Linked DNA regions of Homo sapiens: region 2 is linked to region 1. A link means that fine-mapping ties the variant in region 1 to the expression of a gene that starts in the linked region. Tissue or cell type: blood mononuclear cells. Region 1 holds a variant in brackets; the other region holds the start of a gene. All regions are shown on one strand. Distances are between the middles of the regions.

The links.
Region 2: TRPC6 starts here. The variant in region 1 is fine-mapped to the expression of TRPC6 in blood mononuclear cells (TOPMed, PIP above 0.99).

Annotation. Positions count from the first base shown.
Region 1 is chr11:101,543,906-101,546,940 of GRCh38, reverse strand. The region is part of intron 1 of TRPC6 (transient receptor potential cation channel subfamily C member 6); the gene reads left to right. Among named protein-coding and RNA genes, the nearest start is that of MIR3920, 26 kb to the right of the region's middle. The variant ATTTC/C (reference allele first, on the strand shown) is at 1,732.
Region 2 is chr11:101,582,693-101,585,192 of GRCh38, reverse strand. It overlaps TRPC6 (transient receptor potential cation channel subfamily C member 6), which reads left to right and starts at 1,186. Exons shown (of 13, transcript NM_004621.6): 1 at 1,186-1,859. The coding sequence starts at 1,690.

The sequences.
Region 1 (3,035 bases):
TTATTTTGTTCACCTGATAATTTTGACATTCATAAAATTTTAGTCTCTCTAGTTCATTTTATTACTGTACAGTATCCCTTGTATAAATATACCATCCTTTATTTATCCATTCTATTATTGATAGATATTTGTGTTATATGTATACAGTCTTTGTTTGGTAAAAGACATCTTTTTAAAAAAATCATGAATAGAAGTTAAATTTCATCAATTTTCCTGCAGCTGCACTTCACTTTTTTTGAAATCCACTGCTTCCCAAATGATATGATAGTTGCTTTATATACATCATGTTTAAAACTCAGATCAGTGTTACAAGTAAGTATTACAATTCCCACCTTGTACATGAAAAAGCCAAAGCTCAGAAAGGCTAAGTAGCTTGCCCAATTTTCTAGGTACTAAGTGGAAAAGCCAAGATTCAAAGTCAGGTTTCTCTGGTCACTTCATTCACTCATTCATTAACTTATGCATGTATTTATTCACTAACTTGTTACCGAGGAACCTCCATGTTATCTTGAAATCTTTGCAGTGGTTCCTTTATCTCATCACATGAGTATGAGGATAAAGAGTTATAAGGCCGGGTGCGGTGGCTCACGCCTGTAATCCCAGCACTTTGGGAGGCCGAGGCGGGTGGATCATGAGGTCAGGAGATCGAGACCATCCTGGCTAACAAGGTGAAACCCCGTCTCTACTAAAAATACAAAAAAATTAGCCGGGCGCGGTGGCGGGCGCCTGTAGTCCCAGCTACTCGGGAGGCTGAGGCAGGAGAATGGCGTGAACCCGGGAAGCGGAGCTTGCAGTGAGCCGAGATTGCGCCACTGCAGTCCGCAGTCCGGCCTGGGCGACAGAGCGAGACTCCGTCTCAAAAAAAAAAAAAAAAAAAAAAAAAAAAAAAAGAGTTATAAATGTGATACTAGATCCATTATTTTTTTATTTCCTGTGAACTCAGTTTATCTTCACTCTCTCTTCTTCTTTATAGCCCTATTCACAGAACGGAACAAGTTGAACATCATAGGCAAGCAAATAAATGAAGGGCCCATCTGTGTGAAAACCAGAAAACACCAGAAATGCTACACGTGTAAATAGGTCAGATAAAATTGATTCCTATGTTTAGTAGCTAATATGAAAAATGAAGTCTATCTCAAGCAAGTGGAAAGATGTCTTAATTAAAGGAAGGTAAATGATAAAGCCCTCTCCATCATCTACCTAAAAATTATTTTAAGAAATAGGGGGCAACTCCTAATGTGTTAGCTAAATTATAAGAAATGTATTAAGGCTGAATCCAGATGAGTGTTTTATCTGACTATTTGGTTTTTATCAGAGACTTAATAATGTTAACAGAGTATTGGATTAGCAGTCAAAAGACCCAGACGATCTAATAATCTCAAGAAAGCTATTTTATGGATTACAAAACTAGCTAATGTGCCTTGTAAAATAGAAGTTTTGTTTATATCAATTGTTGGGGCAATGTAATGGATAGATATACAGTTGTTCCTTACTATCCATAGGGGATTGGTTTTGGGTTCCCCACTCCCCACGCAGATAGCAAAATATATGGATGCTTAAGTCCCTGATATAAAATGGGGTAGTATTTTCATATAACCTAGGCACACCCTCCTATATACTATAAATAATCTCTATATTACTTACAAAACCTAATACGATGTAAATACTGTGTAATAGTTGTTGTATTGCTTATTTACCATATTTTAATTGTTGTATGGTTATTATTTATTT[ATTTC/C]AAATATTTTTGATCCACAATTGGTTGAATCAGTGGGTGTAGGATCCATGGATACATAGGGCTGACTGTATATGATGTTTGTGTTTATGTGTGTATGTGTGTGTGTATAAAGACTAATACAGACCTATTTTTCATTCAGAACAATAACTCTTATAGGAGTCTCATACTTAAAGGCTAGGTGATCTTCATAAATTGAACAAATTCCTACAATGTTATTTCACAGGGCAGGGTTTCTACATATAGCACTACTGGTGCTCCAAGTACATTCCTAGAAAAGTTCAAAAAGTGTCAATTAATTTGAAGACCACTGAACAAACATTTTTTTTAATTATACTTTAAGTTCTGGGGTATATGTGCAGAACATGCAGGTTTGTTACATAGGTATACATGTGCCATGGTGGTTTGCTGCACCCATCAACCCGTCATCTACATTAGGTATTTCTCCTAATGCTATCCCTCCCCTAGCCCGCCACCCCCAACAGGCCCCAGTGTGTGATGTTCCCCTCCCTGTGTCCATGTGTTCTCATTGTTCATCTCCCACTTATGAGTGAGAACGTGTGGTGTTTGTTTTTCTGTTCCTGTGTTAGTTTGCTGAGAATGATGGTTTCCAGCTTCATTCATGTCCCTGCAAAGGACATGAACTCATCCTTTTTTATGGCTGCATACTATTCCATGGTGTATATGAGCCACAATTTCTTTATCAAGTATATCATTGATGGGTATTTGGGTTGGTTCCAGGTCTTTGCTATTGTGAACATTGCCACAATAAACATATGTGTGCATGTGTCTTTAGAGTAGAATGATTTATAATCCTTTGGGTATATACCCAGTAATGGGATTGCTGAGTCAAATGGTATTTCTAGTTCTAGATCCTTGAGGAATCACCACACTATATTCCACAATGGTTGAACTAATTTACACTGCCACCAACAGTGTAAGAGGGTTCCTATTTCTCCATATCCTCTCCAGCATCTGTTGTTTCCTGACTTTTTCATGATCATCATCCTAACTGGTGTGAGATGGTATCTCATTGTGGTTTTGATTTGCATTTCTCTAATGACGAGTGATGATGAGCATTTTTTCATTTGTTTGTTGGCTGCATAAATGTCTTCTTTTGAGAAGTGTCTGTTCATATCCTCTGCCCACTTTTTGATGGGGTTGTTTTTTTCTTGTGAACTTGTTTAAGTTCATTTTAGATTCTGGATATTAGCCATTTGTCAGATGAGTAAATTGCAAAATTTTTCTCCCATTCTGTAGTTTGCCTGTTCACTTTGATGACAGTTTCTTTTGCTGTCAGAAG
Region 2 (2,500 bases), 39 kb before region 1:
CATCCATCCATCCATCCACCCACCCACCCACTCACCCACCCAAGCATGCATGCATGCACCCTACACACCTGTGTCAAATACGAAGCTGGATCCTCAGGACACAGTGGTTTCTGCTCTCTCTGAGTTTCAGTTCTAAATTTAAAGGCAAACTCAGAAGTTTCTAAATGTGTGAGCTCTTTTCCCTTCTATCAAATCAATTGCATTTTCCCACACTTCCAACATTCATTTTGTTGTCCACCTGTTCATGGGAAGCAAAGGCACCTTTGCAGACAGATTTCAGTCTGGCTTTCTTTCATCCAATTGCAATGGGCCTCTGATCTTTTCATGGCTGGCTGCTTGCCATGCATGTCTCAACTTAACGAGCACCTCCTTGGAGGGGCCTCTTTTAACCATCTCATCTGAAGTAGTCATTCACCAGCTGCCATCACATCAACCTGTTTTATTTTCATTGTAGCATTTGTCCTTGATATTTTTTCATTTGCTTATTTAATTGGTCCCCCTTTCTGCCACGAAAGCTCTATGAGGGCAGACAGGTGCCTCATCTGCTTCTTTGCCTCCGAATTCTGAAATGATTTGAAACGCAGTTGGCATTCATTAAATATTTGTTGACTTAATGAATGGATTCTTAATTGGCTACTACTGCTTAAAGGTCTACAAATACTGATTCATCCTTGTTGACAAGTTTTTACTTCTCACACGTATGCATATTAATCAGAATTTAAAACTAAGTCTTAAAAATAAAACAGCTTGGAAACGTGGGAAACATCTGGCAGAGAAATCATTCTTGCATTCGCAGTGACGGAAGGAAAATTTTTTCTCTGAAGTAAGCAGGTTGTTGGCCTCTTTATCGGTATCATTGGAAAATGCTTGCCTATTTTTGTTGGTTTTCTCAGGAACTGGGAACATCTGGCGTTTGGAACATAGAACGTTGTTCATTTTTAAAGCAGAGTCATAATAACTTTATGAGTTGAGGGTAAGAGAGAAAATGACCAAAGAAAATGAAGGCAGTCTGGAGAAAGAAGAGGCTCGTGTCCCTTTTAAGGAACAGGTTTCCTTGGCTCTTTGAGAGTGGTTCTTAAAGGAAGCTTCCTACGAAGTCCGCAGTTGGTATCCTTACTAAATGAGCCAACTAAATAGTGGAGGGGAAAAAAAGAGTGCGTGCCTGGCTCCTCCTAGTTCAGGCTCATACCGCCTCCTGAAAGTTGTGGCTACAGGACAGGCTTTGGCTGCTTTCTAGAACGTCGCTCGGATCCCTTTAAAGGTGGGGATCTTGACGGAGAGTGCGGGGGATGAAGGCGGGAGCTGAGGGCTGGAGAGTCTCTGTTGACATAGTAACTCTTCAGCTCCGTCTCCCTTGCTCTCCGCTCTTACGCTTCGCTACCACCAGCGGCCCCGCCTGTGCCCTCTCTGCCCGGGCGCCCCAGACGCATCCTCGCGGGGTCTCCTCGGCCTGACCTGCTCAGGTCAAGATCCTCTTTGCACCCCCTTAAGTGGTGACTTTTCCCCGGGCCAGTGGGCGAGCCACTTGCGGCGGGCGTCTGCACCCCCTGCTTCACCGTCGTCCCCTGGGCACCGGTCTGCCCAGGTCCAGTTCGGCCGCTGACGCGAACCCTCCGCACCGGGTCCCCGCTGGAACTGCCCACTCGGCTCCCCCGGGAGCGGGGCCCAGGCCAGTCGGGCGTTCCCGCCATGAGCCAGAGCCCGGCGTTCGGGCCCCGGAGGGGCAGTTCTCCCCGGGGCGCTGCCGGAGCCGCTGCGCGGCGCAACGAGAGCCAGGACTATCTGCTCATGGACTCGGAGCTGGGAGAAGACGGCTGCCCGCAAGCCCCGCTGCCTTGCTACGGCTACTACCCCTGCTTGTGAGTGCCGGCGACGCGGGGCGGATCGGGCGCGGGCTGCGCGGAGGGAGGTTGTGCGCTCGCAGGAGTGGCCGAGTCCGTCCGCGCGCGTCCTGAACCCGCGTGTGTACCTCCTAGGACGGTGCTGGGAGGTCCGCGAGAGCCAGGGCTGGGACCTGAGTGAGTGGAGGGGCGCGCGGGGAGTGGGGGAGGCGGGGTTGTCTAGGTTTGCTCCTCGTAGGTACGCATGGATATGTTTGCCCACGAGAGTGAGACCGCATAGTAACACCACCATTGCAGGTGATTAGATGGGTGGTCGATTTCTCCAGACCCCTTCATCCTGCGCTCTACAAGAGACAGGATCGCTACGTAACAGGCGGGATCTGAACAGGGGGCTGATTCAGATGTGCGCCCGGGTGACTCTTAGCCTATGTGGGGGAGAGATGACTAGAACTCCAAGGGTTGGAGCTGCCTGGGTGCTGGGTGCGCCCGGCGGTCTCCACGCTTGGCTTAGCGTTTCGGGCTGAGCGCTGAGGTCCTTGGACCGTGGGACAGCCAAAGTTAGACCAGGACCTCTCCCCGGTCCTGGGGCCTTGGAGTGAAGACAGAAATAGAACCAATAGGACTCTCCACCGGCGGCGCGAACCTTTTCACCCGGGGCG